Homo sapiens: one gene and its partners. The protein of the gene in region 1 interacts with the protein of each later gene in a pairwise test. Each region holds a gene or a part of one and is shown in the gene's direction. Other genes may lie near its edges. The genes, in order: GMCL1, NFIL3, SHQ1 and FLYWCH1.

Region 1 (7,243 bases):
TCCCTATCACCTTTCTGACCACATTTCTACTTCTTATTTTGCTTGACTTATATTTTATGTTCCATCGTAAAATTGGTCCCTTGCTTATACTCTTTTAACTTTTCTTTTTCCTCATTGACATGTTAAACTCACCTGGCTAAACCCCAACTCTTGTCAAGGGTTGCACTCCATGCCTGCATCCAGACAGATGAATGTGATTAAAGACAAACACCGTACCCCATTGGGTTCCACTTGAATGTGGTAACCATGAACTTGAAGTAGGTTAGTGCTGCATCATGATCTGTCTGCATTTTCCTAGTGAATTGATCCTCCCATTAGCTGAGGTAACTCATACCTTCTCTCCTTAAAAGGGCAATGCTCCCACCCTTATTCTTATCTGATGGCCTTGCTGCCTACTGCAATGAAAAGAGAATCTGTACATCATCTTACCAGTAGTTCTGCCAGTCTACCTGCACCTGTAGCTATGCGCTATGCATTTCATCTTATTAGAAAAATGAACTGCCTACTTCTATCTTAGTCCATTCCCTCTCTTTGTACTGGACTCTATCCATGCTCACCTATTCAAAAGCTTTGCTCCAGCCAGGCACAGTGGTATGCACCTGCAATTCCAGCTACTTGGGAGGCTTAGGTGGAAAAATTGCTTGAACCCAGGAGTTAGAGTTCAGCCTGGGCAATATAACGAGACCCTGTCTCTTTAAAAAAAAAAAAGCTTTGCCCTTACAGTTATCACCTCTACTAGGGCAGAAACTGTATGTTATTTACTGCTATGATTCCATTGCTTAGAGGAGTGCCTGGCATATAATATGTGCTCAATAAATATCAGTTAAATACTGAATTGCAATTCAGGGTGTCAGCCAAACACTTGAAGCCCTAACTACTTCTCTGTATCACACTACCTTATCTGATACTCTCACATTAACTATTAGCTGATAGAATAAACAAACTCGTGAACCCCATGATGATATTTAAATAACCCAGTTGTGTGTTACTTGAGTTAGAGTATTTTATTTTTATTTTTATTTTTATTTTTTTTTATTCTTTTTTGTATTTTTAGTAGAGATGGGGTTTCGCCATGTTGGCCAGGCTGTTTTTGAACCTCAGACCTCAGGTGATCCACCCGCCTCGGCCTCCCAAAGTGCTGGGATTACAGGCGTGAGCCACCACACCCAGCCCTTAAGAGTATTTTTAAAGCAAGGTGGATTTTAATGGGCTCTTAATTACCTTAGTGCTCTAGAAACTCTTAGTGCTCTAAGCTATATACCCACTTAGAGTTGCAGTGAAAAGCCTTATTATTGCTGGGTGCAGTGGCTCACGCCTGTAATCCCAGCGCTTTGGGAGGCCGAGGCGTGTGGATCACAAGGTCAGCAGTTCAAGACCAGCCTGGCCAACATAGTGAAACCCCGTCTCTACTCAAAATACAAAAAAAAAAGGCCGGGCACAGTGGCTTACACTTTGTAGTCCCAGCACTTTGGGAGGCCGAGGCGGGCGGATCACCTGAGGTCGGGAGTTCGAGACCAGCCTGACCAACATGGAAAAACCCCGTCTCTACTAAAAATACAAAATTAGCCAGGCTTGGCGCATGCCTGTAATCCCAGCTACTCAGGAGGCTGAGGCAGGAGAATCGCTTGAACCCGGGAGGTGGAGGTTGTGGTGAGCCAAGATCATGCCATTGCACTCCAGCCTGGGCAACTAGAGCAAACCTCTGTCTCAAAAAAAAAAAAAAAAAAATTAGCCGGGCGTGGTGGCAGGGACCTGTAGTCCCAGCTACTTGGGAGGCTGAGGCAGGAGAATCGCTTGAACCCGGGAGGTGGAGGTTGCAGTGAGCCAAGATCATGCCACTGCACTCCAGCCTGAGTGACAGAATGAGACTCTGTCTCAAAAAAAAAAAAAAAAAAAAAAAGCCTTATTATTTATGGTAGAATTGCAGTATGGAGAGATAAGGAAACTGATCATGAAGAGGAAAGTAGCTTAGAGAATTATGATCATTAAGGGCAGCTTTTCTAGCTTAGATAAATAGTTTTGGGTGGTAAGCCTTAAGAAAAAGTCACTGACAAAAAGTCGACCACCCATGAGGGAAATACTTGGAATGAGTTAGAGACAAAAAGACATTTTGAATTTTTTATTTTCTACTTGCTAATATGATAAACTGAAATAAGTCTTCTCTCTTGTATTTTTTAGTACTGCTGGCGTTGGACAGGTTTTAACTTCGGCTTCGACCTACTTGTAACTTACACCAATCGATACATCATTTTCAAACGCAATACACTGAATCAGCCATGTAGCGGATCTGTCAGTTTACAGCCTCGAAGGAGCATAGCATTTAGGTAGGATGAGATTTCCCCACCCCACTCCTCCTCACTCCAGAGAAAATATAAGAAATAAAACCTTGATAATTTACACCAACATTAGTAGAACTTTGGTAAGCTACAGTATATGTGGAAGTGGTAGGAAATGACGAGGCTCCATTCCTGTGAAATCTATTGTTAGTAATCAGAATCATAGGATCTAGTATGTCAGGGAGAATGAATAGGCTGGAATATATACCAGTAGGGAATATCAGCCTTGAAGTCGTTGCCTTGTTGCTATTCCTAGCAAATAAAAGATCCAGACTGTTGAAATATGTAGCAAGGTATGTTTCCAGGAAAACACATATTATCCTTAACTTTTTAAAGGATTTAATATGTTAAATTTTGCCCAGTAGTTGCTGGCAATCTTTTTCTGAGAGGATACCAGAAGCTGACAAATTGGACAGTAGCTTAATGAACATGATTTAAAAGTCATATATTTATACTTACCTTACACCAAATACAAAAATTAACTTAAAATGGATCAAAGATCTAAGCATAAGAACTGCAACTATGAAACTCTTGGAAGAAAACATAGGGGAAAAGCTTCATAACAATTGATTTGGCAGTGATTTCTTCCATAAGACACCCAAGCACAGGCAACAAAAGAAGCAGTAGATAAAATTGGACTTCATCAAAATCACAAACTTGTGTATCAGAGGACAGTGTCAAGACAGTGAAAAGGCAACCCATGGAATGAGAGCAGATATTTGTAACGCTACATTTGATAAGACATTAATACCCAGAATATATAGAAAACTCCTACAACTCTATAATTTAAAAAGAAAACTCAACTCAGCTCAAAAATGGGCCAAAGACTTCCATAAACATTTCTCCAAAGAAGATATATAAATGGCTAATAAACACATGAAAAGATGTTCAACATTACTAATTAGGGACATACAAACCAAAATCACAATGAGCTATCACTTCACACCTATTAGGATAGCTATTAGTAAAAACAGAATAGAAAAAAAACAACAAAAGTAACAGGTGTTGGCAAGGATGTGGAGTATTTAGAACCCTTGTGTACTGCTCGTGGCCATGTAAAATGGCACAGCCACTATGGAGCATGGTATGACACTTCCTCAAAAAAATTAAACAGAATTACCATATGATCCAGCAGTTTCTCTTCTATAGACCAGAAGAATTGAAAATAGGGACTTAAACAGATATTTTTGTATACTTATGTTCATAACAGCATTATTCACAATAGCCAAAAGGTGGAAGCAACCCACATGTTCACTGACAGATGCTAGAGAAACAAAATGTGGTATATACATAAAATAGAACATTATTTAGCCTTGAAAAGGAAGCAAATTCTCATACATGCTAAACATGGATGAACCTGGAAGACATGCCAAGTGAAATAAGCCACTCACAAAGCACAAATATTGTAAGATTCCACTCATACGAAGTACCTAGAGTAGACAAATTCATAGGTACAGAGGATACACTGGTGGTTGCCAGGGCCTGAGGGAAGGGAAAGTGGGGAGTTAGTGTTTAATGGGTAAGGAGCTTCAGCGAGGGAAAATTAAAATGTTCTAGAGATGGGTGCAGAACAATGTGGAAATATATTTAATGCCACAGAACTATATACTTTAAAATGGTTAAAATGATAAATGTTACGTATATTTTACCACAATAAAAACATTTATAAATGATTTCTCTTGGCCAGATATGTATAATAGCACAGGCTTGTCACTGAATGCAGTCAGATTACAGTTTGAAAAGACTTCCTAAAAGTCTTTTATCAAATAAAAAACAGAGGAAAAAGTAAATATGAAAGTAAGGAAGAGCTTGTTTAATCTGTGGTTTAAAAATCTTGTGTTTATTTTTTATTTTTTTTTTAATCCTAGATTACGTTTGGCTTCTTTTGATAGTAGTGGAAAACTAATATGTAGTAGAACAACTGGCTATCAAATACTTACACTTGAAAAGGATCAGGTATGTTCGATTATCTTCTGGTATGTCATCATAATATTTGTCTTTTGAATCCTCTTTTGAAAATTCTTAAGTAGAATTAACATTAAAGTGATGGCATTTTGACCTAAAAGTTGGTTTAAAAGTCTTTTGAAGGTAAAGATGAAAGTACCACATTCACTTATGCATAATTGACCCCATCCCAATGGAAGCATAATTAGGAGAAAAAAAGAAAACACTGTTTGAGGGGCAGGGAAACACTGATTATAAGGAAATAATTGTTTATCCTGAATATCAGCAGCACTAAAATTCATTCCTAAAATTTTAGGAATCTTAAGTGCTTTATCCATTGTGTACATAGTGCATTTATTTATACATTCACAGCAGGCATCTTAAAGACAATCCTGTATGTCTCCATAGCTCCGAATATCATAAGAGCATTATTCTCTAGCCCATTAGGTTCGTAAGATGGCAAACTCTGCAATGTTCCCCAGATTATCTCCAAAGCCATTTATTTATTCATACATCACACACATGGAGAAGTTTCAAAGTGTCATGATGAGAAAGTAGACCATTTTTAAAAGTAAAACTGAAAGCTGTTAAAATATTGAGGAACTTTATTTCTATTAAAAGTAATCATCATTCCAAAGGGCATAATGTTTTATTAAAGGATTCAAAGCCTGTTATAGTTTACATAAATTATGAGAAGTTAGTAGTTTTCCTCAGACTGAAGAGACTATCATAGAACATCCTTAGCATTGCAAGTAACCCCGGAAGTGATCATTGTAACCTCACATGCCCTATATGAGAACTTCTTTTAACAGCATTCTTACAGAGGGGGTCATCCACCCATTGTTGAAACTCTAACTGACCCCCATCTTACATGAAAGGTAATATGTAGGAATGTCCATTTCAAGGCAGGTATATAATGAGAAAGTCCAAATCTGCCTCCATCAGAACTCTCTGTTGGTCCTTCTTGTAACCTCTGCAGCTGAACAGACAATGACTATCTTTATCTTCTACCTGAAACTTCATGAAAAATACTGTCATGGCTCAAACCCAGCCAGAGACCTAAAAAAGCACCAGGCCAAGATAATAGTTGTATTCCCATGTTCCTTCAGCAAACATTTGTGTCCCCACCATGTGCTTGGTTCTCAGCTAGAAGTAGAAGAAATAAAGACAGGCTTGTGTTAATATAGCCTAGTGTAAGTAGCATGATAGAATTAGCTCAGAGTGTGCAACCTTGAGGGAGAAGACTCTGACCTGTAACTGAGCAGCTGCCGTGGTTGGGGGTGGTTATTGGAGGAGGAGGAGAAAGAAAGACAGCTCAGGGAAAACATCCTCTCCTGGAAAAGTGTTAAAGTGAATGCATACCTGAACCAAGCCTCAAATGGTGAGTAAGATTTCCGGAAGCAAGGGAATACATGGGTCATATTCAAGGAACTGAAAGATGGTTGGAAGAGTTCAGTATAACTAGAGCCAGGGCATGAGGGCTGTGGATGGAGTTTGGGAGATTTACTTTGGGAGTTGTCTCCGTGTTTTATATAGGTTATAGATGTTGTCGAAAAAATAGAAAATATGAGTCAGCTGAAACAACAATCATACATGTACCACTCAGATACATTGCTGAGTTTTTCCTTCACCTGTATCATTTTTGCAAAATTGGATCACAGTAGGTTAGCTATTTTGTAACCTGCTTTTTTTTTTAATGGTGAAAAACATATATATTTAGAATTTGCCAGCTGGATTCAACTTAGATGATCCCAATTTTTTGGCAGCCTCTAAAAGCAGCATGCTCAGGAGCCAGCTGAACATGGGCTTTCTTCTCTCCATCAGCCCTGATCACGGTGTTGATCTTGGCCACATTGGTGTCATAGAGCTCCTCCACAGCCTGTTTGATCTTATGCTTTTTGACCTCGACATCCACAATGAACACAAGTGCATTGTTGTCCTCTGTCTTCTTCATGGCCAAGTCAGTGGCCTGGGAGAACTTGTTGGTCGCATAGTGGTCAGGCCTGGGGGAGAGGCAAAATGGGGTCACCTGGCCTGGGCCCAGTAGAAGAAAGGCTTGGTCCTCTTTCAGAGCCCAAGGCCAGGTGAGCCTAGGTGCATCAGACAGTGAGGTAGTAATTGTAACCTTTTTTTTTTTTTTTCACTTTGTTGTACATAGCTTTTTTTGGTCAATAAATATATATTCACAGCATCATTTTTATGAACGGCATAATATTAGTTGTTTTGGCTATACCGTAACTTAGATAATTCCTCTTTATTGGATAAAGTTGTTTCTCATTTTTTTTCATTACTATAGGAAATATACATATATCTTTGTCCATTTTTATGATATTTTTAAAGCATAAATTCCAAGAAGTAGAATTCTTGTTGCATGGTGCATACAATTTTCTAATGGCCAAATTGCCCTCCAAAGCTACTGTCCAATTTATACTTCCCCCTGGCAGCAGTACAGGAGAGTATACCCAATATTGTATCTTATTCTTTTTCATCTCTATCCCAGCGTAGTAAATGTGAAAACAAATATTTGTTTTAATTTTCATTTCTTTTTGTTTGTTTGTTTTGAGACAGAGTCTTGCTCTGTCGCCCAGGCTGGAGTGCACTAATTTTTAGTAGAGACAGGATTTCACCATGTTAGCCAGGCTGGTCTTGAACTTCTGGCCTCAAGTAATCCACCTGCCTTGGCCTCCCAAAGTGCTGGGATTACAGGTGTGAGCCACCGCGCCTGGCCCTTAATTTTCAATTTTCATTTCTTTGGTTACTGTATTGTTGGGTTTTTTTATGCTTATTGAACGTATCATCTCATGTAAACTGACAGCTTATATTGTTCCTGTTTAATTTTTTATTAAAATTTCATTTTTTTCTTGCTAATTTTTAACAGCTTTTATATATTAAAAATACATTTGTGATACTCTATAGTTTTTACTTTTTTTTTTTTTTCCGAGACAGGTTGTCACTCTGTCACT
Region 2 (7,755 bases), on another chromosome or scaffold:
GAACTCCTGCTAATGGAGCCACATGGCAAAGTTAGGGGACCGAGAGGCAGAGGCTGGAAGACAGTTGAAATCTTAAAAACTATAACGTCTAGGTTGTGGCTGGGATAGGTAGGTGGCAAGAGCAAAGAGAAAAGTGGATGTTTGGGGGAATGAAGGAATCCCAGGAAGTAATGATCTGAATGACTGGAGAAAGGCCAAAGGAAAAAACTAAGAATAATAGAGTAAATCAAGATAACTAAATTTAAAAAGAAAAAAGGTCAACAAAGGTAGAAAAACTACAAGAAAAGGCAAAGCGGAAGAGGAAGACAGAGGTGAAAGATTAAAAATGGCATGAATAGCAGAAATAAAAGTGCATGAGTGGTGGAAAGAAATATCATTCCAGGAAGTTTCTGCCTCAACAGTCAATGACTCATTGCATCAAAGCCAAAATCCCAGCAAAAAGCACACACTGATGGGCGTGGGGAGGAGAACCTCACTAAGGCTACCATGCTAGCTCACATCTTAAAGCCTCCACTTGAAAACAAAACAGGTCTGGTGCTGTGACTCACACCTGTAATTCCAGCACTTTGGGAGGCCAAGGTGGGAGGATTGCTTGAGCCCAGGAGTTTGAGACCAGCCTGGGCAACATAGAGAGACACTGACTCTAACAAAAAAAAAATTAAAAAATTAGCCAGGCATGGTAGTGTGCACCTGTAATCCCAGCTACTTGGAAGGCTGAGGTTGGAGGTTTGCTTGAGCCTGGGGGGGTCAAGGCTGCAGTGAGCCGTGATCACTCCACTGCCCTCCAGTGTGGGCAAGAGAGCAAGACCCTGTCTCAAAAACAAAAACAACAACAACAACAACAACAACAACAAAAACGGTATGCTATGGATTCCCAGAAACTGAACTTCTGTTCCTGGAGTTTAATAAAAAGACACAAGGTGGTCCATAAACATACTACAGTGGAAAGAAAATGGTCCTGGCACACAGGAGCCCTGATGCAGGCTGCCGGCCACCAGACCAGACAGGAGGTCACCAAAGGGCTTTTAGTTATCGAAGTTTTTTCTACAAAGAAATCCATAAGTCCAATGCACAAAACAGATAGGGTAGAGCTGCCCAATTTGGTTGCCAGGTAGGCAGCCTGCTTTTTAGCCACTGAGTCCCCCGTCTCCACCCCCTGTTCCCAGGACATCTCTGTAGAACTCAGAGGACTCAGACTGTCCAGCCTCTGGGTAGGTAAGTCCTGCAGTCTTTTATTTTTTAATGAATTGCTTGCCTAAACTGAAAATCAGGATATTTTACCAAAAAAAAGAAAGTCAACTTTCTTTTGAATAATTGGAGCTGTGGGCTGTGCAGTCTTTTATTTTTTAATGAATTGCTTGCCTAACCTGAAAATCAGGATATTTTACCAAAAAAAAAAAAGTCAACGTTCTTTTGAGTAATTGGAGCTGTGGGCTCCTGGAAACAGCAATTGATGAGAGAGCTGAAAAACAGTCTTCTTCAGTGGGTCACTTTCTTTTTGCCACAGTCCACGTGTGGCTAACGTCCTGAATTCTCATTATCCATCTGACTTTACAGTTACTCCGGCCTAGTGAGGTCCACTGTAAAATCCCTGGGATATATATATGGCCTCTTGGGGATGTTCCAGCTCAAGACATTCTGCAGCTGTAGAAAAATTATTACTATATTAAATTAAGTTGTTACTAAATTACAAATTCCTATTAATTCCCATTTTAGTAAGGAGAAGTCACTGTTTTAGTCATTCTGTTCTCAAGCTATAGCTCTTATATTTGCTTAGTCAGAAACCATGTTGGCAGTATAATAAAATGAATTAGAATGTGGTTGATTGTCTTCTGCTGGTAGTTCTCATCCCTGTCCAGGCACCTCCTCCCTTGCCCCTGCCCTCAATCCACCCCTAGCACTGAGAGGTTGCTGAGAGCAAGAACCCCTTCCTCCTCCTCCTGAGAACCTTACAGCCCAGCTCCACCATCAGGCACATGCTGATGTCTTCCTAGAAGCCTCCCCACCCTGGTTAATTTGTTTCAAATATCTTAGGTTTTTATGCTCCATTTACTCGAGTTAATCTGCAAATACTTACCTACTCTGTGAATGTTCTAGGATATAATATTAGATACATCATCACTTCGGCCCTGGGGACAGATCCTTCATCCTGTTGTTTAGTGGTGTCCTAATCACCAGGAGGAGCTAAAGAGTTGTTTTCTAAGCTGGTATCTCAGATACCTTTCACACTTCCTCTGATTTCCAAGTTAGATGGTAACAATGAATGATGCACAGATATAATACATACACAATCTAAAATACTCCAAGTAAATATAGGAGCATTCGATTTCAAAATTCAGCATAAAGAATAAGTTTCCAGGTTGAGAGAACTCCTCCAGCATCACTGCCTGGGGTGGCTCCAGGCACGTTCTTTACCTGTCTTGAAGGTCGAGTTGTCTTTAAAGAAAGACATTTACTACAACGGCTTTGAAATTCCATGAAATTATTCAAAATGCAGAACAAGGTCAGAACACGTGAAGGGGAGGGTAGATTATGCAGGACAGCCCTGGATTTCTAGACAATAGCTGCATTTCTGACCCCAAAAAGGCAACTAATATGGATATGATTTTGATTTCATCTAAGAGAGGTTCTCAAAGCTACAAATAAGCATTGTAAGGTTTGGGCAAAAAGGAAACTATCAGTAAATTTGAGAAAAGTGGCCAGGCACAGTGGCATGCGCCTGTAATTCCACTACCAGGGAGGCTGTGGCCGGAGGATCCTTTGAGCCCAGGAGTTCCAGGCCAACCTGGACAACATAGTAAGACCACATCTTGAATTATTATATATGTATGAGAAAAGTGGAAATTATAAACTAAAATCAGGATTTGTTCTCATGAAGGTAGTCAAGTTTGGAAAATGTGTAGTGGAGGGGATGTGGTTCTTGCATTAGTCAGCACCGGGAAGATGGTGTCGGGGAACACGCTAAGCCCATATTGTACGTCTGAGTTTTCAGAGCCTTGTCAGCAGAGCTGTACTACCAGATAAATCACGAACAAGAGTGCGTTCAAAACCACAACGCTGCCCTGGAAGGCTTTCCAAAAACTCAACTGATAGGTGATAAAAATTTTTTAAATATGACTTGCGTTATTATGATATTAACTGTGCAAGAAGGGGAAAGGTAGAAAAGACAATCTTGGCGAGTAGATAGATCTGCTGCTCATGGCAGACACTAGGGATGGTACCTGGGTGTTCACTCTGCTCTTCTCTTTACTTTGGTTTTTGCTTTTTAAAAACGAAAGGAGCAAAAAGAAGTGGAAAGTCGTGGAGGCACTCGGCCCAGCCCCCACGTAGTTCAAGGAGACCAGGAGGGAGCTGGCTGGTGGAGGTCCTGCCCACCTGCCACACTCCGTATTTGGGCAAGCCTGTGAGTCACTGTCGGGAACATGGCTCCCTTCGCCAAGGCCAGCACTGACCACTATCCGTGTATCGGTAAACGCAGGGAGTGTGCCACGTGCCTTGACAGTCTAGCGCGACGACTTAAGAAGTCGCGGCTAGGTGCTCTTTTTTCCATTTTTTTACGTCTCTTCCGTAGCCCGGGAATTTGGGAGAGAAGACTACCGTATCCAGTTAGACGCAGAAATAACACTAAGCAGCTATCAGCTCAAAATCACAGGAAGAGATCCCGCGCGGTCGTCTCAAGCCCCAGCACCAAACGACAGTGGGCGTCCCAGCGGGGGCACCCGAGCGCGGACCTTCACATCCTCCGAGGAACGCCGCACCCGCGTGGCGGGGGTGGGTAGATGGACCTCAGCGAGCCTCGTTTCCCAGTCGTGTTACGCAACAACTTTGCAGCCGTCATCTTCGCCCTAATTGTGCAGGGGGCGGTGTTTGTGCGTGGAGCTTTCCCTCCCGGCTCCGGGCCGTCGCGGCTCTCGGGAGAGGCGCCGGGACATTTTAATCGCTGCCTCCGCCGCGCAGCCCTGCGCAGCTGCCCGGCCGCGCCAACCCCTTCCCCGCCGCAGCGCGCCCCGAGTGTTGGCAGCTTGCCAGCCGCCACCCCCCGCCTTCCCTCCTGCCCACCCCAAGGTAGAGGGCTCCTCTCGGGAGTGTGCGGGGAAGGGGAGGCCGAGGTCCGGGCCACGCCCGGGTAGCCGCAACCCGCAGTGCTCAGTCGGCAACAGGTAGCCCAGCAGGCTGCGGCTCTCAGGAAGACAAAAAGCGCCTCTGCGAGCAAGTGAGGGTCGCGGGGAGCGCAGAGCCACCGCGGCGACCGGGAGGGTGAAGGGAGCCAAGAGCGGACGGGGCGGTGGGACGGGGGGCTCCCGGGCTCCTCCGCAGGCTCGCTCCGGTCGTGTCGGCCGCGTGGGCCGTTGCGCAACACTCGTTGCGCCGGGAATGGGGCGCCAGCCCTCGCGGGCGCTCGGACGGCGGTGGCCCTGGCCGGGGAGGGACGCGAGCTGGTAGTGGCGCCGCCGCGGAGGGGGAGCTGAGGGCGGGGAGGCGGGGCGGGGCCGCGGAGTGCCCGCCCCGGCCCGCCCCTGCCGGCCGCGGCCATTGGCGGCGGGCCGGGGGCGGGTGCGGGCGCGGCGATTGGGGCCGCGGCCGCCAGTCACGCGGGGCTGGCGGGCGGCGACGTAGCGCGGCGCTCGGAACTGACCTACTAACACACATCTCTCCGCGCGGCCACGGCGCCCGCGGACCCGGCGCGCCCGCCCGCCTCCCGCGCCGCGCCCTCGCCGCCGCCCGCCTCCCGCCGCGGCCCCGGAGGCCCGGCCCGGCCCGAGCCCCGAGCGCCGGCGGCCCGACTCCCGGCCGCCCCTTTCTTTCTCCTCGCCGGCCCGAGAGCAGGAACACGGTAAGCGCTCCGCCCACCGCCGGCCGGGGGCCCGGCGACCGCTCCCAGGGCGCGCTGCGGGCGGGCGGGCGGGCGCGGGGTGCGGGCCGCGCTGTGTGCGGGGTCGGGCTGTAAGCTGGGCTCGCCAGCGGCGGCGAGTGCGCGCGGGGCATTCATTACATAAACTTTTGCTGCCTTGTCAGGATGGGACTCGCCACCTTAAGGTGGCTGCTTTGATTGCAGCGCCTTCGCGCCGGCACGTAGTCCTGGCTGGTTTGCGCTCTCCCCCCGCTGCTGTTGCATAATGTCTCCTGATTTCAGGAAAATTGATGTTTTGGTAAAGAAGAGCGCCAGGCAGGCTGAGCCCTCTCCGAGCGGGAAGATGCTCTTTCCTCTCTAGTGTCTTTCTTTCTCGTTCCTTCTCTGGGGCTGGCGGCGTAGGGGGGAGAGGAATGGGGGGTTGAGGAATGGGGAATAGTCTTAATTTGCTTGGTGAGAAAAAGGGTTGGTAGCGTGAACGGTGACGGCATTCGGAGAATGCCTGCGCGGCGTTTGTTTGTGTCAGGGGCTGTGTCTGCACAGACGTTTTCCACCCTGTTTGTCGTCAGCGTGTTTTACAAGCCCTCGGGAAGGTTGTGGGATTTGTCCTTTCATACATTGCATAATCTGCCCACGGTGAAATGTTGGCAAGAATTGCGGGCTGATGTGGGAATATGCGCGTATGTGTGCAATGATTTGGTAATTGAGGCGCAGCGTTGGATATTAGATCGTTATTTACGTCTATATTACGTCCCAAATAAACAGGTTTTAAAACGATACTACAAAACCTAAAAGCAAGAATTGCTCGCATTGAATTCTGATCTTGGGTACTACTGGGGTTCGCCCTTTCAATGTTCTCAGCTGTTATTTTTAAATCTGGGACGAACCATTGTGACGTTTACCTCCCCACCTTCCTAATTTTAATGCATTCCATTCGATCAGCCCTTTTTCTCACCTTATTGTCATTGCTTTTTCAGACACGACAAGACAAATCACATAATAGTTTCCTGGAAATGTTGCATTATGTAACTGCCGAATTTGCTGGCAGTGAGCATAGAGAGAGGGAGCTAATTACGTGATTTTATAATCTTGCTACAAAGAAAGTAGGACAGTCTCAGCCTTTAAGAATGTCACTATAACAGTTTTTTTTTTTTCCTTAAGGATATTTTAAACAGGAAAGTAGACAACCGGGTAAGCATGGAGTTTGCTCATGCTGCCGAATGTGTGTCTTTTGCCCTAAATGAAACGCACGTTCTTCTAAATTTAGCCCTATCACATTTTAACAATTGTGGCCTCGCAGTGCTATTTCTGGTGTTTTCTCCAGGGCTGTGTGCAAATACAAGTTCAAGGCCATTTGCTGTAGTTTTAACTCCACGCCTTCGGAGACCTTTGATAAGATTGTATTTTTAGGAAGGCATTTCGCAGCGCCCGGTGATTTGCTGGATGCTGGCTCCCATTTATGTTTTTAAAGGACACTTTAGGAAACTGCTGTTCTCTGAGAACAGCAGGGAATGGCCAAGTGTCATCTTCTGTTCTTGGCTTTTGTAAATAACAACAGTAAGTGAGGTCAGAAGTATTTATTTACCCCCAGACCAGATATGACCTATGGGAAACAGATATAGGTTAGTAGATTGTTTTTTTGTCTGGATACCCTGGTTTTACTTATGTGAAGATGTGTGAATATGTAATTTACCCAAATATTAAATTTCTTCCTGGACTGTTACATAGTGATTATGTGTGAATATATGTATATGATGGGATGTATATATAACGTAACATTTAAATTAAGTGCAGGGTTTTTTTTTGTGGGAGGTGGGGGGTGGACGTCTCTGGAACAGAGTATATTACCCCAAATAATTGCAGTCGCTTTCCAAGAAGCTAGTTGCTCTAGGCCCCCAGCTTCAGACCCCGACCTACTTTGCGAGCTCGGGTGGGAGTCCCAGGCCTGTAGGGGCCGCGTGGCGCCACCTTCCGATCGCGATCTCCAATGGCGAGTCCGTGCGGCCCCCAGTGCGCCGCTCCCTCCTGCGGGCCGGTGGGGTCTGCGAGAATCCGGGGCTGGGGGCGGGTCTGGTAGTGGCGGGCGGGGACCTCGGGTCGGGACCGAGAAGCGCCTCCGAACGGCAGTTATACTGGGGCTGCTCAGTGGCCTGAGCTCCTCCCTGCCCCCTCCCCACATTCCTTTGTTCTGGCGCGGGGGGTCCTCGCGGCGCCGAGGCCCCGCTGCGCCGCCCACCCGGAGGGAGGAGGGTCTCTGGGAGGCGCCGCGTGGGGGCGCGGCCCGTGGAGCCCGGGCGCTAGGGACCGGCCGGGGCCGGCGTACGGGTGCGCTCTGGGTTCGCCCGGGCCGCGGGAGCCAGGGAGCCAGGGAGCCAGGGACCCCGGCTCCCGCACGGGGCAGACAGGGGCAGCGCGGGCGACCCGGAGCGCCTGCGTCTCCGCGGCCCTCCTTCCAACAGGGCAAATCCAGGGGCCTGACTCCGCGCCTGTTCTGCGGTGAGGTTCAGAAACCTGCAGACACCTTTGTTCCAAGAGTCTTCATTGTATTTCGGAACCAAGCGCGTCTCCATTCTTGAAGTGAAAAAGACCTTAAGAAAAACCTCCAAACGTCCACCGGCCACAGAAATTGGGGGTGGAGGCGCTCCAGTATTGATAGTGATTAAAAGGAAGGCCTCAGCTTGACTTTGGCCAGTTGAGTTGAGCCGATTTTTTTTAACCTTTAATTTATGTGGTCAAAGGCTAGAGGAGAGAGAACACTGATCTCCAGAGTTCAAAATAAAATCTAAACGCCCACATAGACGCTGCTGTCCTACTGTAAAACTACAGTACTTTCATCCTCGCATAAAGACTTCCAAGATTGTACCCATGCAGTAATTCATGGAGACATCACAGATGTTCTCCTG
Region 3 (7,110 bases), on another chromosome or scaffold:
AACATACCTGTAGTCCTAGCTATTTGGGAGGCTGAGGTGGGAGGATTGCTTGAGCCTAGGAGGTTGAGGCTGCAGTGAGCTATGATCCTGCCACTGCACTCCAACCTGGGAAACAGCACAAGACCCTGTCTCTGAAAAAAAAAACAACAAAAAAACAAAGAGTACAATTGTGGATAAACTTATTCTTGACAAAAATGTAGTCAAATGGAAATATTGTAATGCCACATATGTATTTTATATATTATATATATATATATATATATATATATATATATATATATAGAGAGAGAGAGAGAGAGAGAGAGAGAGAGAGAGAGAGAGAGAGAGAGAGATATGGAGTCTTGCTCTGTCACCCAGGCTGGAGTGCAATGGTGCAATCTCAGCTCACTGCAACCTCCACCTCCCAGGTTCAAAGGATTCTTTTGCCTCACAGCCTTCCGAGTAGCTGGGATTACAGGTGGTGCCACCACACCTGGCTAATTTTTTTGTATTTTTAGTAGAAACAAAGTTTTCCCATGTTGGCCACAGCAGTCTCAAATTCTTGACCTCAAGTGATCCACCCGCCTAGGCCTCCCAAAGTGCTGGGATTACAGGCATGGGCGACCGTGCCCAGCCTGTAATCCTATATTAAGTGAAGAAAGCAAATATAGATTATGACATTCTTTTGTTGAAAATACTTCCCATACTTTTATGAATAGGAGTCTGAAAAGATGTATGCCAAAATAATAACAGTGGTTAAGACGTAGTTTGCAAATACTGTGTAAGATTCCACCACCTCCCCAAAATGGCTCAGAGAATGAACTAGCGCTATAAACAACTTATTCAGGAAGCTATTTTTCAACATAGGTTAAAGCTCCATTCTTTGAGATAACATTGTTTTAATCACCTATATGCATGCCACCTTCTGGAAACAAGGAGTATTTCACCATTAAAAGACTTCTAACAATAGAACTTGGTAATAAAGCTGACATTGGAATTGTTTATAAAAACCATTTTTAATTTAACATTTAATTTGGAAGCTTATGGATCACAATCAGGGTTGTTAGACCAGAGGAGGGGCCAATTTAATATAATGAAAGATGATAGGTTACACACTTGTCCTACATAAGTTGGTCATGGAAAAAACTTTATCTTATTATTTTATTTCATGTTCTCTATAGGCCAGAAGGAAAAACTATTTTTAAAACAGTGGAAGGCCATTCAAAAGTAAGCTTTCAGAAAATGAAAAGATAAAAAACACTGCAACATTTGAATGCTCAAAAATGATGAAAAATTGCATTCCTGTTTTCCCCTCTAAACCAGAGCTAATTTAAAACATTAAAATAATGTCTTTATTCTCAAGCAATGTCTGTATTCAGAAATAGAAACTCAATTTGATCTATGAATCAATATAGCTATGTCTCAAAAATGAACCAAAGTAGGAAAAAAAGCATGTTGCAGAATTACTTTCATAGTGTGAGAATGTGCCCATATAAAGTGGGTCTAAACACAAAGCAACAGGGTCCATAGAAATGGATGTAGAAATAGAAAAGGGTCTGAAGTGATAGCTAGGACTGCCTTTGAGGAAGCAGGAGAAAGAACCAAAGTTGCATGGCAGCCAAAAGGAACTTTATGTTCTTAAGTGAGAATGAATCTATAACTTATATTTACCACTAATAGAAATGCAAAAATAAGAGAACTATTGCCTGCAAGAAAACAAAAACCAACAGAAACCCAAAACAACAAAACCTTGTTATATACTTGAAACTATCCGTATTTTGTGATTTAGCAGATGCAGTATATATTTCTTATAATGACGGCAGCACTGAACCATGTTGTCTGTTTTCCTGTGTTGCAGTCCTGTGTGTGTGTGTGTTGCCAGACACATAATAAAGTACCCAGGAAATGCACAGCTCTAGTTTGCAAAGTGCTTTCAATTAGAATTTCCTCATGGATAGCATAGCTTGTTTCAGTTGATTCTCTGGCATTAATAATTTAAAAATATTAATGCTTGTGACCTACAGGAATGAGGTCCCATGGCAGATGTAAAGATTATTTCTTTTTTTTTTTTTTGAGATGGAGTTTCACTCTTGTCACCCAGGCTGGAGTGAAATGGCACAATCTCGGCTTACTGCAACTTCCGCCTCCTGGGTTCAAGGGATTCTCCTGCCTCAGCCTCCTGAGTAGCTGGGATTATAGGCACACACCACCATGCCTGGCTAATTTTTGTATTTTTAGTAGAGACGGAGTTTCACCATCTTGGCCAGGCTAGTCTCGAACTCCTGACCTCAGGTGATCCACCCCCTCGGCCTCCCAAAGTGGTGGGATTACAGGTGTGAGCCACCGCTCCCGGCCAAGATTCTTTGTAAAGAAGCTAATTTGGAATAGTTTAGTCACAGGCCTATCTCAAGGGACCTTTTGAGAGCTTTATTAAATCAAAGTTGGCATCAATTCATTGTCAATATTGAGTGCCTATTACTTGTAAGGCTCAGTATGGTCTAAAGCAGGCAGGCTTGGCTTTAGAATGTGAAACAAAGTAGGTGGTAATAACAGAGGGAGTCAACTCTGTAATAGTGTAGAGCCTGGGCCTAGGAATCAGACTCACCTGGGTTTCAATTCCCATTGCACCACTTACTAGCTGTGAGATCCTGTGCAAGCCAAGGGAATATATAATGCCTACTTCATAGAGCGGTCAGGAGGGAGAATGAGATCATTACAAAGGGTTTGCTGCAGTGCTGGCACATAGTAAATATTCAGTTAATGTTAGCCCCTGTTACTATTAATTTTTTTTCTGAGTCCTAATGAAGTTTCAAGAATGTCTCCTTAGAATCATAAAACAGCTGGAGATTGAAAAGACTTTTGAAGTTTTCTGGTTATCTCCACTGTCCTAGGAGAGTACTTTTCATCCCTTTTCCACTGATACTTAAAACCACGGAATAAATACCACAACTGGATTATTCTAATTAGTGGTGGAATAACAGGAAACAACATGTGTGGAAAGGCCAAGGGAATATGTGGGGGAAGAGGGAAACCAGCGGGAGAGGCACTGAGAGAGTGTAAGGGGCACACTCCAAAGGGAGAAAATACAAGGAAGACAAGTAGAAAAAAAGACAGAAAAGATGTCCTCAGACAAGTGTAAGGACAAGAGTGAGAAAAAGGAAAGAAGGGGAATACAGAGGGACCTTAATTTGTGAATGCAGTCACCGACACGGTTTAAGAGTCAAACGTTCTGAGTTCTAATTACTGTAAAATGCATGGTTATAAAACGTACTGATTAACCTCTCTGAGCCGTTTTCTTTAGAGTTTGCAGCGTAGATTAGATGAGATTAGCGGGACGGACGCTCTGTTAAAGAGAAAACTCTTCAAATAAGCCGTTAAGAATGAGAGAGAAAGCTGCAGAAAAAGAGAAGTGGAAAGAGAGAGGGAGGAAAGGGAAAGTGTAAGAGGAATTGTTCACAAGGCAGGTGAGAACTAAGGGAAACCACTGTAACGGTGCTGCTGTGGCTACTGCGGTGACTACTTCAGCACATCAAGCGTTGACAACTTGCCAAGTTCGTTATTAGAGTTCTACATGCACAATTTCATGCTACCCTCACAGCATTTCTATGGGGCTAGGTTCTCGCATTATCCGCGTTTTACAGAAGATATAGAGAGGTTTTGTAACTTTCCCAAGGTCTTACAGCTGAGAAGTTGTGGCCAGGAAGGGATTCAAACGCACGTCTGTTTACCTGTCAAGCCAGTGCTGTTAAAATCATCTCTAAGAACCTCGAAAAAGGCTCGGTTGCTAGTCATCCCGCCGGTTCAACGCCGGCTCCCAGGCACCACTCGCCACGCCCTTTCTCCGCCCGGGGGTTTTGAAAGTTCCGCCTCTTCTCGAACGGCGTCCCGTCTCCATGGAGATTGGCGTGGGGAGAGACTTCCTGCCTTACGCGCGAGCACTTCCGCCTCGAGCCGGAAGCTCCGTCCCTCACACCGAGAGTTCCTGCGCGTGGGGAGTTGGAGAGTTTGCGTGGCGGGAACGCGGCGGCAGTGAGAGCGAGCGGCGCCGGCCCTTGCGTCCGGTGCGGCGATGCTGACCCCGGCGTTCGACCTCAGCCAGGATCCGGACTTCCTGACTATCGCCATCCGCGTGCCCTACGCCCGGGTCTCCGAGTTCGACGTCTACTTCGAGGGGTCTGACTTCAAGTTCTACGCCAAGCCATACTTTCTCAGGCGAGTTCGGGGTGCCTGGCCGCAGGAAAGGCGCATTCGTTAGATAGCTGCTTTAGAGGGAGAATGCAAGGTCGAGAGAGCAGTGCTCGATTGCGCGAATGCCTTTTCCCGACGTTTCCGCAGCTTCTCTTGGTGCCAGGGAACTGCCCTCTTCCAGGGGTGCGTTTTAGATGCTGCGGAAGCCCTTTTCCTTCTTGAGCTTTCTTAAATCCCATATCAAAGGATTGCGGAATCACTTGAAAAAGTGACGTTTGGACCGTGTCACTTTCCCGTTTCTGCCCTGTCGCCCTAGTTCTCGTCCCGTTCTGACTTGTTCTGTTCTTTCCTTTCACTCCGCGTTTGCTCTCCCAGTCTCTCCCTTCCTGGGAACGGCGCGCGCTGACATCTCCGTGACTTCCCAACCCGTCGGTCCTTTTAACTTTGCCCAGGCCGCCTTCTGTTGATCTATCTCTTGTCTGTCCGCTCCCTACTTACCGAAATTCTTACCTTTTTTGGACCTCTTGACACCAAATTAGCCTAGTTCTCCTGCTTCCCTGCTGTCTGCTGCTCTTCTGTTTGGTTTTGTCCCTGAAGTGTGGTTGTTTCCCCCAAGTCTCCGTGAGGGTCTGTCAGCACTTGATCTGTTTAAATTATTCTCCTTGCAGAATCGTAACCTTGGTAGCAGCTAACACTGATAACTCGTAGTGTGGTGGACAAGCAGTTCCGTTAAGTGCTTTATGATGGTGTATCTCATTTAACTTTGACGGTGATCCTTAGGGATAAGCACTGCTATTAACCCCATTCCACAGAACCCGCTGCTACATATTCATCCTAAAGTATTGCCAATCTCTTGTCCTTCTCTTTATCCATCCTCCTAATCTTTCTGAAGTGTAGCTGCATCCTACTTTTCCCACCCAAGTACTTTTGTGGTACAAACCTTCTCCACCAGTCAAGGTGGTTTTTTCACTGTTGCTGAACCAGTTTTGCTCAGATTTCCCTTAGACCATATAACGTCCGTATTTGAATTATTGCACTTTCCAGTTTTTTAATTCACTTATTTCTTTAATTTATTTATTGAGTTTCAGTGTTGGTATTATTGTGCTGAACAAGACAAAGTCCTGCCCTCATGTACTTTTCACTGGGGAGAGGAAAACAATAAACAGTGTACTTAATTGTGGTGAGTGCTATGAGGAGAAAGAAGTGCACTAATAGAGAATGAAAAAGGGCCCATGTTTTATAAAGTGGTCAGGAAAAGCCTTTCTGGGGAGGCGATATTTAAGCCAAGATGTGAAGAATAGGAAGAAGATTATGGTGGTAGCAAATATTTATTGAATTTTTACTCCAGGTTAGTGCTTTATACGGATTATCTCATTTGTTATTAGGACAGTGTTACAACGAGGCTTTATTATTTACCCGTTGCCGTGGATGGATTATTTGTGGGCACCCCCCCAACTCTTGTCCCCAAATTCATATGTTAAAGGTCTAATTCCTGTGTCACTTCTGCTTTATTGTATTCATCAAAACAGTCCCAGAGCCTGCTGAATTTTAAGGGGAGGGAACATAGACCTTCATGGTTGGGAAGAGTGCTGTGAGATGGGCATTCTTTGATAATACAGTTTGCCCCCAGATGTGGTGGCTCACTCCTGTAATCCCAGCACTTTGGGATGCCGAGGTGGGCAGATCACTTGAGGTCAGGAGTTTGAGACCGGCCTGACCAACATGGTTAAACCCCATCTGTACTAAAAATACAAAAAAATTATCTGGGCTTGATGGCACGCGCTTGTAGTCCTAGCTACTTGGGAAGCTTGAGGTGAGAGAATCGCTTGAACCTGGGGGGCGAAGGTTGCAGTGAGCCAAGATTGCGCTATCGCACTCCAGCCTGAGTAACAGAGCGAGACTGTCTAAAAAAAAAAAAAAAAAGAACATACAGTTTGCTATACCAAGGATGAATAAAACCTGGTCCCTCTCCTTGAAGAATGGAGACTGTAGCTGCGGAGGCCCCATGTAAGCAAATATAATTTTCTCTGCAGTAAGAATTTAACTCTAGGCTTATAGAGTTTAGGGGAAGGGAGCTGGTAATAATAGCTCACATTTTCTGAATGCTCACCTGTTGTGCCGGCCACTAAGCTCTTTGCATTATCATTTCATGCTCATAGTAACGCTTGGATAGTTACTGTTATTTCCCCCCTTTACAGAAGAGGGATTTATGATTCTTGAAGAATAATTAACTTGTACAAAGAAGGTTGTTACACATCTGGTAAATGGCAGATCTAGGAGTTAATTCAGATTCTGACACTAAAGTTAGCGTTTGTAACCATTATAACAAACTCATCCATAAACTGACCCCTTATTCTGGCTTAGAGGGATTTTCATTCTGAAAATGTATTGAAGCTTGAGGAAACCTTGGGATTAAAGGTCCTGGGCCTTTTGGGACTGTCAGCTGTTTTTGTTTTTAATCATATTTAGTAGGAAACAAGGGGGAGGGCCATGGGAAGAAAGGAAGCTCAAATTTCAAGTTTGGAATGATATGGAGTGGGCCTGATATGCCCTTCTGATAAGTTTAAATTATCTAGGCAACATGAGGCAGCCATAGACACTTTTTAAAATAGAAAAGTGACAATTAGATTCCTGTTTTAGAAAAATTATTTTGGAGCCTCAGTGGAAGACTGATTGAACTAGGGTAAAACTGGAAGCAGGGAAATCACTTCATTTCTTTTTTCTTTTTTTTTTTTTGGACACAGAATCTCACTCTGTTGCCCAGGCTGGAGTGCAGTGGCAAATGATCTCGGCTCACTGCAACCTCCCCTTCCTGGGTTCAAGTGATTCTTCTGCCTCAGCCTCCTGACTGGCTGGGGTTACAGGTGTGCACCACTATGCCTGGCTAATTTTGTATTTTTAGTAGATATAGGGTTTCTCCATTTTGGCCATGTTGGTCTTGAA
Region 4 (7,243 bases), on another chromosome or scaffold:
GCTGGAACCCGTGGTGACCTCAGAATTCTCCAGACACCACCACAGCCCCGTCCCCGACCAGCCGAGGCAGCCACAGCAACAGCTCCGGCACAAGGTGGCTGCCACTGTGGGGCCCTGGTATCTCCTGAAGTGGGGGTGGCCTGGGGCCTCCAGGCTAGGATAGGGACTGGGTCTGCCTGAGCCCAGAAAGGGCTTTCTGCCTCCCAGGCCGTGATGTGGTGCCGTCCTCTGGAAAGGGCTCTGCGTACCAGGCCCACATGCCTGAGACAGGTGCCTGGCGTCCTGGTGAAGCACATGGTTTCCAAAAAGGTCCTGACAAGTCCCTGGGCATCTGAGCAGAAACGGGTCTCAGCTTCCCGCCTCTTCAGCCTCAAGTGTATCACAGGTGTCTGTGCCTCACTATCCTCGTCTATAACTGGGTCAATAAGAACGTTCTGCCGTCATAATGTAGGGACTGGAGGGGGGACTGGAAACGCGGGTGGAAACCCTTCGTCCGTGCTCAGCATGTGGCTGAGCTCTTAGTCCATTAGTCACTCTGATGGCCCCTTGTGGAGGGTGTTTATTGTGCACATTTTCCAGATGGGGAAAGTGGGGTTGGATGGGGCTGACGTACCTAAGGCTGCCAGGAGAGGAACTGGCAGAGCAGAAGCCTAGTTCCATCAGGCCCCCGGCCAGTCTTGGCCCCAGCGAGCAGTGAGGCAGCCCCATCTGCCCCACCTCCCTCCCAGATCCACGTCTAGAGTCCCCCAAGGGCTTCCACCACTGACGGGATTTTGCTTCCTTCCTTAGGACGGAACCACTGCACTCCAGGTTCCTTGCTGGGTGCTGAGCGTGGCCTGAGGGACAGGCCCTGGGTCCCGGGATGCCCCTGCCCGAGCCCAGCGAGCAGGAGGGCGAGAGTGTGAAGGCCGGCCAGGAGCCATCCCCCAAGCCAGGCACGGACGTCATCCCGGCAGCCCCCAGGAAGCCCAGGGAGTTCTCCAAACTGGTGCTGCTCACAGCCTCCGACCAAGATGAGGATGGGGTGGGATCCAAGCCCCAGGAAGTGCACTGCGTCCTGTCCCTGGAGATGGCTGGCCCCGCCACCCTCGCCAGCACCTTGCAGATCCTGCCAGTTGAGGAGCAGGGAGGGGTGGTCCAGCCAGCCCTAGAGATGCCTGAACAGAAGTGCAGCAAGCTGGATGCAGGTGAGGTGTGGCTTCCCGCCCCTGCCCAGCCACCCCGTGGGTTCCAGCGCTCCCAGCAGGCCCTGTACACCCTGCTTCAAGCATAGTGTCTTGTCCTTGCTCCAAGCTCAGCCTCTTGGTCTCTGATCCTGAGCGTGTCCGAGGCTGGTGGGATGATCACAGTCAGGTACCAGGAGCTCCTGGGAGTTGCAGTGACGTGCAGAATTCCTTCAGCTCCCTAAAAACATCCACTACCACCCCCAAAATAAAAACCAGCCCTGAGAGTCTGGGCTTCTTGCTTGGGAGCAGGAGGAGAAGGCACCTGCCATACTCAGGATCCCCACGCCCTCCCTGGCTCTCTGTGCCTGCGACCCTGAGCTTTGCTCTAGCTTAGCTAACCTAGCCTTCCCGTTCCCCCAGCAGCCCCTCAGTCCCTGGAGTTCCTGAGGACACCATTCGGGGGCCGCCTCCTGGTGCTGGAGTCCTTCCTGTACAAGCAGGAGAAGGCAGTGGGGGACAAGGTGTACTGGAAGTGCCGCCAACATGCTGAGCTGGGCTGCCGGGGCCGGGCCATCACCCGAGGCCTGCGGGCCACAGTGATGCGGGGCCACTGCCACGCGCCCGATGAGCAAGGCCTGGAGGCCCGGCGCCAGAGGGAGAAACTGCCCAGCCTGGCCCTGCCAGAGGGCTTGGGAGAGCCCCAGGGTCCTGAGGGCCCTGGAGGCCGAGTGGAGGAGCCCCTGGAGGGGGTGGGCCCGTGGCAGTGCCCTGAGGAGCCCGAGCCCACTCCTGGGCTGGTGCTGAGCAAGCCGGCCCTGGAGGAGGAGGAGGCACCCCGAGCCCTGTCACTGCTGAGCCTGCCGCCCAAGAAGCGCTCGATCCTGGGGCTGGGTGAGTACAATCCACTCCCCTGCTGCGTCCACTCGGGGCAGGGGACCCGAGGGCCCTTCCTCAGCCCAAATAGAAATGTGGGGTCCCACAGGGTCTTTTAAAATGTACTCAAAGCTAAAATGACTTTTAAAAATATAAATGTGGCCGGGCACAGTGGCTCACGCCTATAATCCCAGCACTTTGGGAGGCCAAGGCGGACGGATCATGAGGTCAGGAGTTCGAGATCAGCCTGATCAACTTGGTGAAACCCTGTCTCTACTAAAAATACAACACTTAGCCGGGCATGCTGGTGCGCACCTGTAATCCCAGCTACTCAGGAGACTGAGGCAGGAGAATCGCTTGAACCCAGGAGGCAGAGGTTGCAGTAAGCCCAGATCGCTCCACTGTATTCCAGCCTGGTGACTGGAGCGAGACTCCATCTCAGTAAAAAAAAAAAAAAAAAAAAAAAAATACATAAATGTGGGCTGGGCACAGTGTTCATGCCTATAATCCTAGCACTTTGGGAGGCTGGGGCAGGAGGATCACTTGAGCCGAGGAGTTCAAGACCAGCCTGGCCAATATAGTGAGACCCCATATCTACAAAAAATCAGCCAGCTGTTGTGGTGTGTGCCTGTGGTCTCAGCCACTTGGGAGACTGAGGTGGGAGGATCACTTAAGCTAGGGAGATTGAGGCTGCAGTGAGCCGGGATCACGCCACTGCCCTCCAGCCTGGACAAGAGACCTGGACCCTGTCTCAAAAAAAAAAATCAGAATTTTATCTGGTTCCCATGCAATTCTAGTGTCCATTAAGTTCAGGAAAGACACCTAGGCCTGCTGCAGTGATTCATGCCTGTAATCTCAGCACTTTCGGAGGCTGAGGTGGGCGGATCATGAGGTCAGGAGTTCAAGACCAGCCTGGCCAACATAGTGAAACCCTGTCTCTACTAAAGATACAAAAAACTAGCCTGGCGAGGCTGGGCGCTTTGGCTCACGCCTGTAATCCCAGCACTTTGGGAGGTCGAGGTGGGCGGATCACGAGGTCAGGAGATTGAGACCATCCTGGCTAACACAGTGAAACCCTGTCTCTACTAAAAAAATACAAAAAAAGATTAGCCAGGCGTGGTAGCGGGCGCCTGTAGTCCCAGCTACTCGGGAGGCTGAGGCAGGAGAATGGCGTGAACCCGGGAGGCGGAGCTTGCCGTGGGCCAAGATCGTGCCACCGCACTCCAGCCTGGGCAAAAGAGCAAGACTCTGTCTCAAAAAAAAAAAAAAAAAATTAGCTGGGCGTGGAGGCGCCTGCAATCCCAGTTACTCGGGAGGCTAAGGCAGAATTGCTTGGAGGCGGAGGTTGCAGTGAGCCAAGATCGAGCCATTGTACTCCAGCCTGGGCGACGTGGCAGGACCCTGTCTCAAAAAAAAAAAAAAAAAAAAAAAAAAGATGGCTGGTGGGAGAGTCTTGGGTTTTGGGTCCTAGGTTCAACTTTCAGCCCTCCCTGATGGTAGCTCTGTAGCCTCAGAAAATTGGCTTAATTTCTGGAGTTTCAGGAGCTTTATCCTAAGGTGGCTGTGATAACCTGGATTGTTGTGTAAATTGCACATTTGGGGCTTGGCAAGTGGCAGATGGGAGTTCTGGCTGTTTTATTACCAGTAACTGGGACATGGGCTTGGGTTCGAGGAGGCCACGTGGCTCCTGACACAGCCTTAAGGATCTGAGGTGGCCCCTGCCCTGGGCACCTGGGGTGGGAAGGGAGGTGCAGGGAACAGGGAGACTTATTTTTCACTGTGATCTTTTCGAACCATTTGAATGTATTATACCTTGTGTGTTTTATTCAAAAATGGGTAGATTTGTTAAACAAAACCTAAAAAAAATATGAGCAGGAGTGACAGAAAACAGAGACCACTGAGTCTGAGTCCAGGTTGGCCCCTCCCGGTGTAACCTTGATGCAACATTGAGCAGGCCTGAGCTGGGGTGACCTCACTGACAGCTAGGAGAGGAATGAGACTCTCCTCTGGGTCACTCGGTGGTAGGGGTGAGCTGGGGTGGCCTCACTGACCGCTAGGAGAGGAATGAGACTCTCCTCCGGGTCGCTTGGTGGTAGGGGTTCAGTGGGAATGGGTTTGGGGCCTCTGACATATCTGGCTCAGGAAGCCAGGGTAAATTTCAGCCTTAAAGGAGAAAGGCTCGTGTCAGCCCCCACAGTCTGCAGGGGCTGTCCCTCCTGGGCTCCTCTCCACCCCTGGTGATGTGACCACTTGGGTCTCTCCTCTAGGACAGGCCCGGCCCCTCGAGTTCCTGAGGACGTGCTACGGGGGCAGCTTCCTGGTACACGAGTCGTTCCTCTACAAGCGGGAGAAGGCTGTCGGGGACAAGGTGTATTGGACCTGCCGGGACCACGCGCTGCACGGCTGCCGGAGCCGGGCCATCACCCAGGGACAGCGGGTGACTGTGATGCGTGGGCACTGCCACCAGCCCGATATGGAGGGCCTGGAAGCCCGGCGGCAGCAGGAGAAGGCCGTGGAGACGCTGCAGGCTGGGCAGGACGGCCCTGGGAGCCAAGTGGACACGCTGCTCCGAGGCGTGGATAGTTTGCTCTACCGCAGGGGTCCGGGTCCCCTGACTCTCACCAGGCCTCGGCCCAGAAAGCGAGCAAAGGTCGAAGACCAGGAGCTGCCAACCCAGCCCGAGGCCCCAGACGAGCACCAGGACATGGACGCAGACCCGGGTGAGCTGCCTTCCTTTGGGGCTCACCGGCCCTGCCTTGACTCTTGCCTCCAGAGGTCCAGGGAGGGAAGGGGGTGCGATCAGGCCTACCCAGCCCCTGTCCCCTCCCCTGACTGCCTCTTGAACCTCCCCAGGAGGCCCTGAGTTCCTGAAGACGCCCCTGGGGGGCAGCTTCCTGGTGTACGAGTCCTTCCTCTACCGGCGGGAGAAGGCGGCTGGGGAGAAGGTGTATTGGACCTGCCGGGACCAGGCCCGCATGGGCTGCCGCAGCCGCGCCATCACCCAGGGCCGACGGGTGACTGTCATGCGTGGTCACTGCCACCCGCCCGACCTGGGAGGCCTGGAGGCCCTGAGGCAGCGGGAGAAACGCCCCAACACGGCGCAGCGGGGGAGCCCAGGTACCTGGGGGTGGGCTGGGAGCTGGGCCCCAGGAAGCAGGCAGGAGCCCCACACTGCCTTTCCCTCTCCATGCTGCGGCTCCCCCTGGCAAACGTCCTCTTCCCTTCTTTGAACATCCTAGAAGGAACTATGGCCCTGGCCTCCTACTCCTTGGCCCCCCTGATGCCGCTTTCAATGGGTCTCACCTTCCTGCTCAGCCCAGCCTCCCCCTTCCAGCCTGACCTGCCCCACAGTAGCAGCAGCAGGGATAGACCTCCCTGCCCTCCTCTTCCTCCGTTTGTCTTAAGAGTTCATAGTAGTAATAGAGGGTGTTGACTGCACATGGTCAGTCTCGTTGCTATGGTGGAAGGCTGTCTTAACGTCTGAGTGGTTAAGGATTGAGGAGGTGATATTTACTTACATGCAGCCGGTTTCTCCTCTCGGCCCGCTGTTCCATAGACACCCATAATGTCCTGAAACGCTGGCCCGAGGAGGGTCCCGGCTGTCTCCATCTTTATCCACACGGTCGGCCCCCCGCAGTGCCTGGTGTTTTGACTTCACAACCACAGTTGCGTAAATGTCCCCATAGCGTCTGGCTGAGGAGCCATTTCATCGTGGCCTCCTCCACTCACCTGCTCTTCCTTCACGCCCCAAGGCGCTGGCCTCTCTTTCCAGTGGCTCTTCCGGATCCTGCAGCTTTTGGGTCATGTGAGTTGCCTCATGGCCCTAAAGTTCTCTCGGACTTGAGAGCTGTGATTGTCTTTCTCTTTTTGTTCCATCTCCAGAGAGACAGTGCTGCGAGGTCCCCGCCTCGTCCTCACCCCCGCTCCTGACCCCACAAGTAACTAAGCAATTGTTTCTTAGGGTCTTGGCTGCCCTATTTCCTAAAATGTGCCTCCACTACTATTAATTGGTTTTTCCATTTCCTTGTCAGCTACTCAGTGCACTTCTTGCACAGGCTTTTTTTTTTTTTTTTTTCTTTGAGACGGAGTCTTGCTTTATCACCCAGGCTGGTGTGCAGTGGCGTGATCTTGGCTCACTGCAACCTCCGCCTCCCGGGTTCAAGCAATTCTCCTGCCTCAGCCTCCTGAGTAGCTGGGATTACAGGCGCCTGCCACCTCGCCCAGCTATTTTTGTATATTTAGCAGAGACAGAGTTTTACCATGTTGGCCAGGCTGGTCTCAAACTCCCAACCTCAGGTGATCTGCCTGCCTCGGCCTCCCAAAGTGCTGGGATTACAGGCGTGAGCCACCATACCCGGCCACGTTTGGTTTCACTTTAGCCTAGAAACCTGCTCGCGGCTGACTGGGGGGTGCTCTGTGGTCCCATCTTCCTAACACAGCTCTGTCTTCTCTGTGGGGTGGCAGCTGCTGCGTTTGTTTGCCTGCTTTTGTGTGTCCAGGTCGACCCCACCTGGATCCGATCATCCACAACCGCAGGTTGCTGGAACCTCCCAGTGCAGCCTGGCCTGGGGGCAGAGGCCGGGCCCAGCTGTCCCTCGGGGTTCACTGTGCTGACTCCCTGCTTCTGGGCCTGCCTTTCTCTTTCTTGGTTTTCTTTATAATTTTGTGGTTTGGAGAAGTCCTGCCTCCCGTCGTTTCCTGGGCCGGTCCCGGGAGGTAGCACGTTGAGGCCTTTCATGTCTGAAATGTCTGTCGCTTCCCTCCGCCGGAGGGGCAGCCTGGCCTCCGTGGTGTCACAGGTGCAGAGCCTGCCCTTGAACGTCCCTGCCGCTTTTGCGTGACTGATCCTCTGTGTGCCGTCAGCTTTGCTTGAGGTTTTAGGGTCTTTGCTCCCTCCCAGCTGTACCTGGCTGTGCTGGGGGCCTTTTTAGGCTTTGGGCTTGTGTCCTTCATCGTGGGGTCATCCTCTCGTGCTCTTTGTTAACTTCCCCATCATCATCCCTTTCTGTTGCTCCTGTTAATCAGATGTTGATCCTCCCAGATGAGGGCGTCTTTTTTTTTTTTTTGAGACAGTTTCACTCTTGTCGCCCAGGCTGGAGTGTAGTGGCGTGGTCTTGGCTCACTGCAACCTCTGTCTCCCAGGTTCAAGTGATTTTCCTGTCTCAGCCTTCTGAGTAGCTGGGATTACAGGTGCACACCACCAC

The links.
Region 2: the proteins of GMCL1 (region 1) and NFIL3 interact in binary tests that used the Homo sapiens proteins (3 or more experiments, as listed by UniProt).
Region 3: the proteins of GMCL1 (region 1) and SHQ1 interact in binary tests that used the Homo sapiens proteins (3 or more experiments, as listed by UniProt).
Region 4: the proteins of GMCL1 (region 1) and FLYWCH1 interact in binary tests that used the Homo sapiens proteins (3 or more experiments, as listed by UniProt).

Annotation. Positions count from the first base shown.
Region 1 is NC_000002.12:69,867,541-69,874,783, forward strand, and holds part of GMCL1 (germ cell-less protein-like 1), read left to right. Parts: intron 1-158; exon of another isoform or gene 159-261; intron 262-2,178; coding exon 2,179-2,324; intron 2,325-4,204; coding exon 4,205-4,292; intron 4,293-7,243. UniProt on the Homo sapiens protein: Possible function in spermatogenesis. Enhances the degradation of MDM2 and increases the amount of p53 probably by modulating the nucleocytoplasmic transport.
Region 2 is NC_000009.12:91,420,719-91,428,473, reverse strand, and holds the start of NFIL3 (nuclear factor interleukin-3-regulated protein), read left to right. Parts: upstream 1-4,641; 5' UTR 4,642-4,834; intron 4,835-6,045; exon of another isoform or gene 6,046-6,474; intron 6,475-6,769; exon of another isoform or gene 6,770-6,852; intron 6,853-7,755.
Region 3 is NC_000003.12:72,845,279-72,852,388, reverse strand, and holds the start of SHQ1 (protein SHQ1 homolog), read left to right. Parts: upstream 1-3,943; 5' UTR 3,944-4,048; coding exon 4,049-4,191; intron 4,192-7,110. UniProt on the Homo sapiens protein: Required for the quantitative accumulation of H/ACA ribonucleoproteins (RNPs), including telomerase, probably through the stabilization of DKC1, from the time of its synthesis until its association with NOP10, NHP2, and NAF1 at the nascent H/ACA RNA.
Region 4 is NC_000016.10:2,928,824-2,936,066, forward strand, and holds part of FLYWCH1 (FLYWCH-type zinc finger-containing protein 1), read left to right. Parts: exon of another isoform or gene 1-94; intron 95-789; 5' UTR 790-862; coding exon 863-1,187; intron 1,188-1,586; coding exon 1,587-2,057; intron 2,058-4,306; coding exon 4,307-4,759; intron 4,760-4,892; coding exon 4,893-5,156; intron 5,157-5,265; exon of another isoform or gene 5,266-5,791; coding exon of another isoform or gene 5,792-5,844; exon of another isoform or gene 5,845-7,243. UniProt on the Homo sapiens protein: Transcription cofactor. Negatively regulates transcription activation by catenin beta-1 CTNNB1, perhaps acting by competing with TCF4 for CTNNB1 binding. May play a role in DNA-damage response signaling.